3 linked regions of the Homo sapiens genome follow. The protein of the gene in region 1 purifies or fractionates together with the protein of each later gene. This does not show direct contact. Each region holds a gene or a part of one and is shown on either strand. Other genes may lie near its edges.

Region 1 (3,658 bases):
CATAGGTATGTGGCACCATGACTGGCTAATTTTTGTATTTTTTGTAGAGATGGGGTTTCACCATGTTGCCCAGGCTAGTCTCAAACTCCTGGGCTCAAGAGATTTGCCTGCTTTGGCCTCCTAAAGTACTGGATTACAGGCATGAGCCATCACACCTGGCCTCTTTTTTTCATTTGAGACTGGGTCTCACTCTGCCACCCAGGCTGCAGTGAAGTGGCGCCATCACGACTCACCGCAGCCTTGAACTCCTGGGCTCAAGTAATCTTGCCTGGGTCTCCCAAAGTGTTGTGATTACAGGCATGAGCCACTGCGTCCGGCCAACATATCTTATTCTAACACAGTTGACAACAGAGTCCAAAATGCACGCTAATTTCTCATGATTTTTTAAAAAAGGTAAATTAAAAGTAAGCCACACAAACAAGCAAAATGTTAAATTTAGCAAATTAATCTTTATGCTAACAAACCTTTGTGTGTCTTCCATTTCCTTCACTAGACGTTCTAAGGTATTTGTGTAAGTTCCAGGATGAACATGTCCCTAAAACAAGAACATTTAGAAATACTTTACCACATGTCTTAGTAGAAGAACTGGGATGTTTTAAGTAATTAAGGGTACGAAAGACTATTTTCTATTTCAATAATCTGGGCCAGGATAACACCTTTCTTAAAGGATAATTTTCACCATCATGCTTTAAATCTAGTATTTTGCACTGCAGACAATTTGATTTTACTACCTATTAGGAAAGGCAGTACTTATAAAACCCTGCTAACTTTGAGATGTGACTGCAAACACTCAAGGACTCTGTGGCTACCCTGTCTTTACTTTTAAATTCTATTTTAGTAGAATCAAACTACTAATTTTTAGGTGTTACCATGGAATATTAACACCTTCCCCACCAAATTTTACAGACATCTTAGAATTTAATTCAGCTTATTCCCAAGATAGAATGAAGCACTTTATAAATAAAATTGCACACCACAATCAACAACATTTCTACACTCTACCTTCATTTACAGATGTGGTCTCCAAAGCAGGGGGTGTGCAAGGTGATCCATTGGGGTGCAGGAAGAAAATAATAGAACTTCTATTTATATGGAACTTCTATAGAGACTCCAGTAGAACTTAGTCTATAGTAACTTCTACGTCACTTCTACAGGAAAATACTTATTTTTCTCTTCTTCTTCCTTTTAAATTCTGTTTTTGCATATGCTTTAGAAAGTACACAGTATTACAGTGGTACATATATATAATCTAAAGGTATACATATATGTTGGGGTACATGCTCAAAAATTGTTAAGTGTGTGTGATCAAAAGAGTTTGGAGACCACTGACTTACAGTAATAAAACTAAAGATATGGAAACTCATTTACCAAACAAGAATTATTCCATTTTCAGTACAAATATGAGTTATAATAAATACTAAATTTTAAAGTAAGTTCCGATAATCCACCCCTTTCACTAATTAATCATCTTTCCCTCTTCAAGTAAAGATAAACGTCACAGAACTACTTACTGTATAGTCTGATGACTGAGATCTAAGCCCCTTGGAAAGAGCAGGAGGCTTTCCTGTAGCTGCAGGAGTCTGATTGAAGTTCAAAGCCATTATTTCTTCCAGTGACTTTAATGTTTCCTCTTCCTCATCACTGTCTAGGTTGTAACCTAAACTTTCTTCATCACTATCAAAATCACCCCTTAGTTTTCTTTTCAGTGCACTGCTACCTGCATTGGAATTTCCTGAACTCTCTCCTTCTGAAGGGGCTTTATCTGAAGGTGCTGCAGGGCTTGGGATACATGGCACAACTTCCAAAGCAGCAGGGGGAGACTTTGTAGGAGTGCCATATTCTGAGCGCAAAGGTCCCCCAGAAATTTTCCCTGAAGATACATTAGAATCGGCCTTATTAGTCTTTGCTTTGTGTTCCTTGTGTTTGGTGGATTCTGTAGAATGCCCAGAACATTCTTTAGATGAGGAACGCTCTTTATCTTTTTTAGAAACTGGAAGAGCACAATTTTTAGCATTTAATGGTACTAGAGAGGAACCAGCACTTGGAACACGGGAAAGTAAAGGTAGTTTTGTCTCCTTCTCCTTTGTCGTGGAGCTAGCGGTTTTATTTTTCTGAAGGTTGCTAGCTTTTTTAATTGCAGACTTTTCCTGAGATAAAGGTAAGTGGGGTTTCTGCATCTTAGTCTCCTTGGTACCTGCCACTTGGATTTGGTCACTATTCCTGGTAGAATGGTGGCCAGAATTGCCAGAATTTGAAGGTGCCAAGCCTGCAGAAGAGCCATCAGTTTCATCACTCGGTTCCTTGGATATATCTTCTAAGCGCAACACATCACCAGGTGTCTTCAGTGCAATATGTTTTATAAATTTTTCTTTCTGATGTGGTCCATCAGGACGCTTCTCAAGGAAGGACTCTCTTGCTTTTGGTATCATAGATTCTCTTGTGCTTTTCAGATCTGAGTCCACAGAGTTCCTTTTTCTTTTTTCAGGGAATTTATTCTGCTTAGAGCCTGCTAAAATTTAATTTTTGTTAGATTAGTGAAAAATATACTTTCCAACTTTAGTAAAGTTTATTCAGTGTCTAGAACACCCTAATGAAAGGTTTAAAATTCTAAGTATTAAGGCTGAGATTAGTCACCATATATGGAATGCAGAAAAAGAGTTACTTATCAACTGGATAAATACTGGTGTCCAAGAAATTTAAAGCTAATGACAAATGCTCATTTTCATTCCAAAGCTATGAAAAGTTTACCACCTTAACAGAATTAAAGATGCCACTCCCTAAAACAAACAACTGCATATTTGTACCAAGTTAAGGATGCCATAGGTACTTCTGGAAATTCTTTTAGACCTAGGACTACCTGGTTGCAGAAATGTAACACTTCTACATTTAAATGTATAGTACCTTAAAACACGTATAGGATAAACACTTGAAGGCAGATAAATGTTAATTTCTCATTAAAAAAAAAAAAATCACGCTGTGTCCCAATGCAGTATGACTGGTGTACTTACAAAAGGTGTCTTTGTCTTTGGAGACAAAGACAGACATGCACAGAGGGAATACAAGGTGAAAATACACAAGGAAAAGATGCTATGTGACTGGAGTGATGCAGCTGTAAGTCAAGAAATGCCAAAGATTGCAGGCAAACACCAGAAGCTAGACGAGGTAAGGAAGTATTCTCCCCTAGAGTTGCCAGAGACATTACGGCCCTATTGATATCCTGATTTCAAACTTCTAGCTTCCAGAACTGTGAAACAATAATTCCTGTTGTTTTAAGCCACCCTGGTTTTGGCACTTTGTTATGGCAGCCCTAGGAAACTAATATAAGCTATATTTATTATAGCCCCATCCAGAAGTACTTTAATAACCACATACATTTGAATGAACCAGTTTTTAAAAATTCATATTGTGGGCTGAGTGCGGTGGGTCACACCTGTAATCCCAGCATTTTGGGAGGCCGGAGTGGGCAGATCACTTGAGGTCAGGAGTTTGAGACCAGCCTGGCCAACATGGTGAAACCCTGTCTCTACTGAAAATACAAAAATTAGCCAGGCATGGTGGTGCGTGCCTGTACTCCCAGCTACTTGGGAGGCCAAGACAGGAGAATCGCTTGAACCTGGGAGGTGGTGGTTGCACTGAGCCAAGACGGCACCACTGCACG
Region 2 (3,658 bases), on another chromosome or scaffold:
AAGAATAGTATAATGAGCCCAATGAACACATTCCCCAGTTTTAATAATAATCAATTAATCCCAATACCTTTTTGATCCACTAAAGTTTTATATTTTTTCAAATTTATTACTTTTTCTCATAATTTCTTCTTTTGCCTTTAAGTTTAGAAGGAACTCCCTCACTCTCAAATATAGTCATTTACCATCTTAGTATATTTTATAGTTTCATTTTTACATTTTTTAAAATTTTACCTGAAATTTTTTTGGTGTATAGTGAGAGGTGAGGACTTAACATTCTTTTTGTAAACAGCCAGCCATCTAGCATCATTTATTAAGTAATTTTTCCTTTCCCTACTGGGGATATTTCAAACCAGTATACTCTTTCTTAAATACAGAAGAGCGGCTCTGCATTTTAGCTTTGTTAAATTCATTTGTCAATTTTTTTTTTTGAGATGGAGTTTTGCTCTTGTCACCCAGGCTGGAGTGCAATGGCGGCTCACTGCAACGTCTGCCTCCTGGGTTCAGGCGATTCTTCTGCCTCAGCCACCCAAGTAGCTGGGATTACAGGTGTTAGCCACCGCACCTGGCTAATTTTTGTATCTTTAGTAGAGACGGAGTTTCACCATGTTGGTGAGGCTGGTCTCAAACTCCTGACCTCACGCAATCCGCCTGCCTCAGCCTCCCAAAGTGCTGGGATTACAGGCATGAGCCACTGTGCCTGGCCCATTTGTCTATATATGAGTACCACACATTTAATTATTTTGCTAAATAATAGATTTTAATAGCTAAATTTTTTAGAAATGATAAAATTAGAATCAGTCTTCCTTCACAACTTACCTGGTTGCACTTTTTAACCACATCTGGCCCAGGTGTGGCATTGAGAAGTGCTATAATAAGGTAACGATTTAGCAGCTTCCCTAGTCCTAGTTCTTGCAAGGTGTCATCTGTAAGGAGTCCATTCCAAAGAAGAATATTGCGGAAGAGCTAAAATAAAATATCAAGTAAATATGTACCTTTTCTCCAAAGAGAAACTGTAATAGTCTCTAACAAACATGAAGAGTTGGTCAAACTAAAATTCTCACTACAATTAGCCCTGTTGGAACTGTCAATTTTAGAATACAATATCTCTGAATAAATACTTGATTCTTTCCAAACTCCATGTATTTGCTCATCTTATTTTCATTTTCTAGGATAACCATCCCCAAATCTATCTCAAATAACTTCACTAGAGCCTTTCCAGATCAATAATCTTCCTTCCCAATCCATTTTCTCTCAAAGCCGGGGGCCATCAAGTATAAGACCACAGGACCACGTGATTCATAAAGAACTACTGTCAAAACTAGGGCCGCCATTACCAACATGTGACCTTGAGAAGGCAATCAACGCTGAGAGCTTCATTCCTCTGATACATAAAGATTTATAATCACCTTTGAGTTTGAAGATAACTTGGATTAAGTAACCATAATAAATTCTAATAAAATATTGGTTGTCCTTTCCCTCTACTAAATTCAGATCTTTCTGTGAATTTTAAGGTGTTTCTTTTTTTGCAGTACTATATTCATTACTCTGAGTGCTGAACTACATGCTGTTTTACTAAAATGTAATGCTTTTTCACATTTTATCTCATTGTTGATGTTGTTCCCTCTTCCCAGAAAGCCTTTTCCCTGATTCAACCACATGACAAATATTAATTCACACTATTAAAACTACTCTTGGTGAGGTCACCTATATCCTTCTAATTGTCAAATCCAATAAACAGTGTTTCAGTCTTTCTCTTAATACTCTTTGGTGGCATTTAACACTCTTTTCTTCATTCTTGAAAATCTTTCATTTAGCTTCCTTGAGGCCATTCTCTTGTGATCATCCTAAGGCTCATAATTGATTCTACAGATTCCCTGAAGCCTCCATGTTCTCCTCTTCTGTTAGTATTTCCCGAGGTTCTGTCCTTGGCCTACTTCTCATGCTTCATCCAGTCTCCTTACGCAGCTTGCCATTCATGACCATGGCTCCAAATATTACCTACAGGTAGTGGACTCCCAAATCTCTAGCTCAGATCTGTCTCCTGAAATTCAGACTTATGTATCCAACCACCTCCTAGACCTCTGTATCTCTATTTGTCCCACATATATCTTCATTATGTACAAAATAGATCTTATCTTCCCTTGATCAGTTATCGACTCCTTTCAATGCTTCCTCCCAAACATTGTTTGAACCTTCTTCTCCTTCTCATCCCTACTGCCACTGACTTAGCAATAATTTTAAGGCCAGGGGTTAGCCAACTATATAGCTTGTGGGTTAAATCCATCCTGTTGCCTGTTTTTATAGGGTCCGTGAGCTAAGAATGGTTTTAACACTTTTCAAGGACGTTTTAAAACTGTCTTTAAACAAAATATTTTGTACCATGAGGAAATTATATGACATTCAAATTTCAGTGTTCATAAGTTTTATTCAAACAGCCATGTTCATTTGTTTATGTACTATGACTGTTTTTGTGCTACAGCGGCAGAGTTGAGTAATTCGACAGAGACCATGTGACCACAAAGCCTAAAATACTATCTAATTCTTATAGAAGAAGTTTGTTGTTCTTTGTTCTATAGTAAACAGGATTTTTACAAAAATTGCCTTTTCATTTTTGCAGTTTTTGCTCACCTTTAGGCCTGACCAGAACTGTCTTTCTTGGAACTTTGAATGAGGTGATGTTTTGTTTTCTACAGCACTAATTAGAAACAAACGAAAGAGAAGAGAAAATGCAAAGAACTATTAGTCTTTCAGAACCAGAGTTTAAGATCAGACTTTCTTTTAAACCAACCAAACTAAGCCTTAATGGAATATAAATAGAGATTGTTTATTTTATTTTATAAATAAAATATATATTTATTTATAAAATATATATTTATATATTTATAAATATGTTTATAAAATATATATTTATATATTTATAAATATGTTTATAAAATATATATTTATATATTTATAAATATGTTTATAAAATATATATTTATATATTTATAAATATGTTTATAAAATATATATTTATATATTTATAAATATGTTTATAAAATATATATTTATAAACAAATAACTAATATATCACATTCATACATCTGAACCATGTGAATGCATTATCTAAAACATTATAAACAAAGTTTACCAAGGCAGAATTTTTACATGTAGACATCTCATGATTCAAAATGAATCAGAAAGCTTTGAGGTTCCTTTCTTCCCCCTCCATAAAGCTCCTCCATCCTGTCACTACTCACTGGATTGCTACAGTTCATGCATCATTATAACTGATGGCTTCTTAGCAAAGTTATGATCATACATCAAATACTCGTTTTATAATTTAAAGTGACTGCAGAATTTACAGGTGCAGTTTCTCGTTCCTCAGCATTGTGCTTCCTCTGTGCTAGGCCCTGTTGTGTTCTGAGCATTCTCTTCATCTCCCTAATATCCTGTGAGGTAGGCACTAATTTTATCCTTATTTTATAGATGAGAAAACAAGTGCATAAAAATACCTACTAACAGTGGACGTGTGCTCTTTACCACTCTATATCACCTGCTATGTTCCTAGGATATATGTAAAACCAAAACCAAAACCAACCAAACAAAATTCATCTAAGCGCCAAGATAAAGCACGGCTTTATGTAAGTCACTGAGAAATATTTGTTGAAATCTCAAT
Region 3 (3,658 bases), on another chromosome or scaffold:
CATATAATAAATTACAAGAGTCAACAAAGGTTATGCTTCTTTGTTCCTGAATGCAATCGAAACATTTTCTTCTAATGAGTTTATCCAATTAAAGTCTTGTAGAAATGCACATTCCCTTAAGTTAGTCATTTTAGTGAGGCAAAAAAAAATGAGCAATGAAATATAACTTTATGTTAGATCAGGCAGAACAGTTCATTGGAGTGATGGATATTTCAGGGCAGTAGTTCTTGTATGCAATATTTTTCTTGCTAATAAAATGAATACAATTCTTTACACTGTCCATTAACAATTTTACAGTCTCACAGTAGTAATACGCAGTATACCATTCTCCTTACAGGCCAATTTTTCCTAATAAGGAATGCAGAGCATCTCTTGCATCCTGAGTAATGGCAGGCAATATCAGAAATAAAACAGTAAATGTTGAGTTCTCTTGTATAAAACGGTTCTAGAGTGAAGAGGGTCTGAGATGTTGCTGCATTAAGTGATTGTTTTTACTTGAATCCAAAGTGTATTAAACTCCAGGAAATTAGCCTTGGTTAATCTACACATAAGAATATAGTTTTGCTCTTATTTAATCAACAATTTACTTATGCAAAGTACATGTGTTAGTATTGTGGGCAGGGTATATGGGGTCTGAGTGAGCTTAAAGTATTTTGAGGAGTAAGGATGTAGACATAAAAGAGAAATAGTTTCATCATCTTCCACTCCCTCACCCCCATTTTTTTTCCTGTCTCTCAAGGTGCAAAATGCTGCAGCAGCATGACGGAAAGATTGTCACCTGGCACTGGTCCTAAGTGTGGTGGTCCCCTTCTGCACAGCTATTCTGTAGAGGAAAGGACAATTATGTTGGCTCACTGCTTCCCAGTAATCTCTCTCTACCTCTTAAAAAACAAGGGTGAGGATAAGTAATGCAATAGAGAGATTTTTCAAGACCACAACTGGCTTTCATTGTGGTGTCATTTGGAAGATTTGTTTTTAAAATTTTGTCCCCAATCTAAAGGCACAGATCAAACTGAAATAAAAAGATTTAAACATTGGATCTCAGTCTATTGCAAAAGAGTTCCTACAATTCCATACTTCATCTTTTTTTCATAAAGATATTACCTGAAATATGCTAAAGCCAAATGTAAACATAGTTATGAGTGTCACAGGTCCTTAGTTGATTGCCAAGATTTCCCTGGTGTGTCAGATAATTAAAGGATCTCTGAGTGTCTGCTCACCAACAAAGATAACATGTCACCACCCAAGGCCCTGCTATGGGCACAAGGCAGAGAATGGCCTTGCTGAGGAAACCCCAAATCATCCCCACCACGCAGCTGAGAAGAGAAGCCAACTGGAAGGCAGAAGGAAAAGAGATCCTGCAAATTGGCTCTGGCTCCTACTGCCCAGTCTCATAGCACTGAAATTCTCCAGCCTGTGGGAGGAGGAAAATGCTAGGGAGTCTTGTATAAAGTTCTAAATTCATCAGCTACTGGGGAAAGCTTTTGCTATATGTAAAGAGAGAGAAAAAAATACCGATCTCAAAGCAAGGAGTCCAAAGTTAGGAGTGATGAGTCACCCTTACATATTTTTTGGTATGGTAAAATTTCAATGAGAAGCATTCCCGGGTGCCTGATGTAAGGTGCAGATCTTGGGGCATAAGAACAGTAGTGGGTTCAAGGGTTAAGCATCGGCCCTTTATAATGGGAAAAGGATCCATTCCCATTAGTTAGGAACTGGACTTCCTGGGTGGAGATGCTGTAGGGGACAACAGGGCTGGGGCTTAAGAGACTCCAGATGCTACTTCACATTTTCCTCAAGGTTAATGGTTAAAGGCTGTTACTTTGAATTTCTAAATTTAAGATTAAATTTTAACCTGAGGATCAAAGATGCTGATTTGTTCGTCCGATTACAATGTTACAGTTTAACCCTAATTTTCTTATTCCACCTAAGAGTGTTGTTCAACAGTGCTTCCACTTAGAAACAGCAGCATTTAGCCTTTTGTAATGTGCCTTGGTTTCCTTTCACTGCAGTTAACAATTAATACCTGGTGTTGGTTTCAGAAATTCTGTGTGAGAATGGTTTAGAATCAGCAGTCTGATTGGCAGCCAGAGGACTCACCTGGAAGCTGTTTGCATTTAAAAGCCTGCTATTTAGAATTAAACTGTACATTTTAGTTATAAATACAGCATCCATGTGAGGACTTTAAGGCCCTTCTTTTCATTTTTTAGATGATTTCCATGGGTGAGGTTGGCGATTGTTGGGTGCATTTGGAGGGCCATTGAAGAGCTAAATCCTGCTAGCTTCCCCAGGCGTAGTTGCTGATAGTGTCCCATAACAGTTTGTAAATGTCTTAAAGATGTTCCAGCTTGGAAGTATATTCTGCTTTGTCCCTCCTCCATTATACTATGTGAACCCTTTAGAACACCGCTGCAGAACAAAACACTGAAATCCTGTATAAATGATTGAGTCACTGAAGCTGGTACTCAGAGCAAATGTTTTATTAACAGATTTTTCTCCAGTAGTCTTGAAAATCTCCCCTGGGGGAGAAAACTGGCAAAAGGGGGCCTGAGGGTTGTTGGAAGAAATGAAAAGTACATAGGATGCTATTTTGAAAAACTGATTTGTCAGAAGCCACTTTATTTTAACAATAATGTGACTGCACCTGGCACATGAGACAGGCTCTGGGCCTGTTTCTCAATGTTGTGAAAAGCAGGACAGTCAGTTCCCATGGAGTAGATTACAGCGTGTTGGACAAGGACATTCCCCCGCGTGAAGGCACACTCCATGGAGCCAGTGGGGCCACCATTCACGGTGTGCAAGCTGTGGCCTTGGAGAGAACATGGGCAGGGATTCCCCAGCCTCTACTATACCCCAGCTTTACTCCATTGATCACAACAATGGCACTTTTTTCTTTTGGTGCAAATATTTCCATTTTCCAATTGAGCCTAGACTTTGATTTTATAAAAGGAAAAGAGAATATCTATATATGTAAATATCTGCATGTGAGTGTATGTGTATATATATATATATATATATGTATATACGCATTTATAGATAAAATTATTATGGTTGCAGAAGCATCAAATTTTGTAAAAATATCTGTTTACTACAAGCCTCTTTTCAAGCACACTTATGACACAGAAAATATTCAGAGATTAAATTGCCCATGAATCTAGTGCTCAGAGGAAAATAGTTTGACAAATTGGACCAATGAAGTTGAAATTGGATCATAGAAGTTCAAAATATTTACAAAGTGTCATCTTTTGTAATGTGTATCACAGGACTTTGAATTCCTTGGGAAAATGAGACAATTTTTTTGTGGCTTGTGTAGGTCTGATTTTCACTGTGGATCACCCTTTATATTTTCCTTCTTTCAACTCCTTCCTTCTCCTGCAAGTTCATAACATTTTATTAATATCAAAGGAAGGTTATAATTTTAGAAATCAAAATTAAAGAATGGGTGCTGTGTAGCATTATGTTTACTGGGCTTGATATAATCAGTACTTTTGGCATAATTTAAAACATGATTATACTGTGTGTCATTGGATATGTATATAGACACAACATGTTCTCTATCAATATCTATCTATCTATCTATCTATCTATCTATCTATCTATCTATCTATCTGTCTATCGTGTAATCTGTCTCAGTGGTGTGCTGAAGTCAGCTCACACT

The links.
Region 2: the proteins of SLF2 (region 1) and GCFC2 purify together in Homo sapiens (affinity purification with mass spectrometry; one large-scale study listed by BioGRID and IntAct). This does not show direct contact.
Region 3: the proteins of SLF2 (region 1) and ITGA1 purify together in Homo sapiens (affinity purification with mass spectrometry; one large-scale study listed by BioGRID and IntAct). This does not show direct contact.

Annotation. Positions count from the first base shown.
Region 1 is NC_000010.11:100,922,826-100,926,483, reverse strand, and holds part of SLF2 (SMC5-SMC6 complex localization factor protein 2), read right to left. Parts: intron 2,510-3,658; coding exon 1,512-2,509; intron 536-1,511; coding exon 465-535; intron 1-464. UniProt on the Homo sapiens protein: Plays a role in the DNA damage response (DDR) pathway by regulating postreplication repair of UV-damaged DNA and genomic stability maintenance.
Region 2 is NC_000002.12:75,669,322-75,672,979, forward strand, and holds part of GCFC2 (intron Large complex component GCFC2), read right to left. Parts: exon of another isoform or gene 2,995-3,658; intron 2,696-2,994; coding exon 2,629-2,695; intron 964-2,628; coding exon 817-963; intron 1-816.
Region 3 is NC_000005.10:52,955,299-52,958,956, reverse strand, and holds part of ITGA1 (integrin alpha-1 precursor), read right to left. Parts: 3' UTR 1-3,658. UniProt on the Homo sapiens protein: Integrin alpha-1/beta-1 is a receptor for laminin and collagen. It recognizes the proline-hydroxylated sequence G-F-P-G-E-R in collagen. Involved in anchorage-dependent, negative regulation of EGF-stimulated cell growth.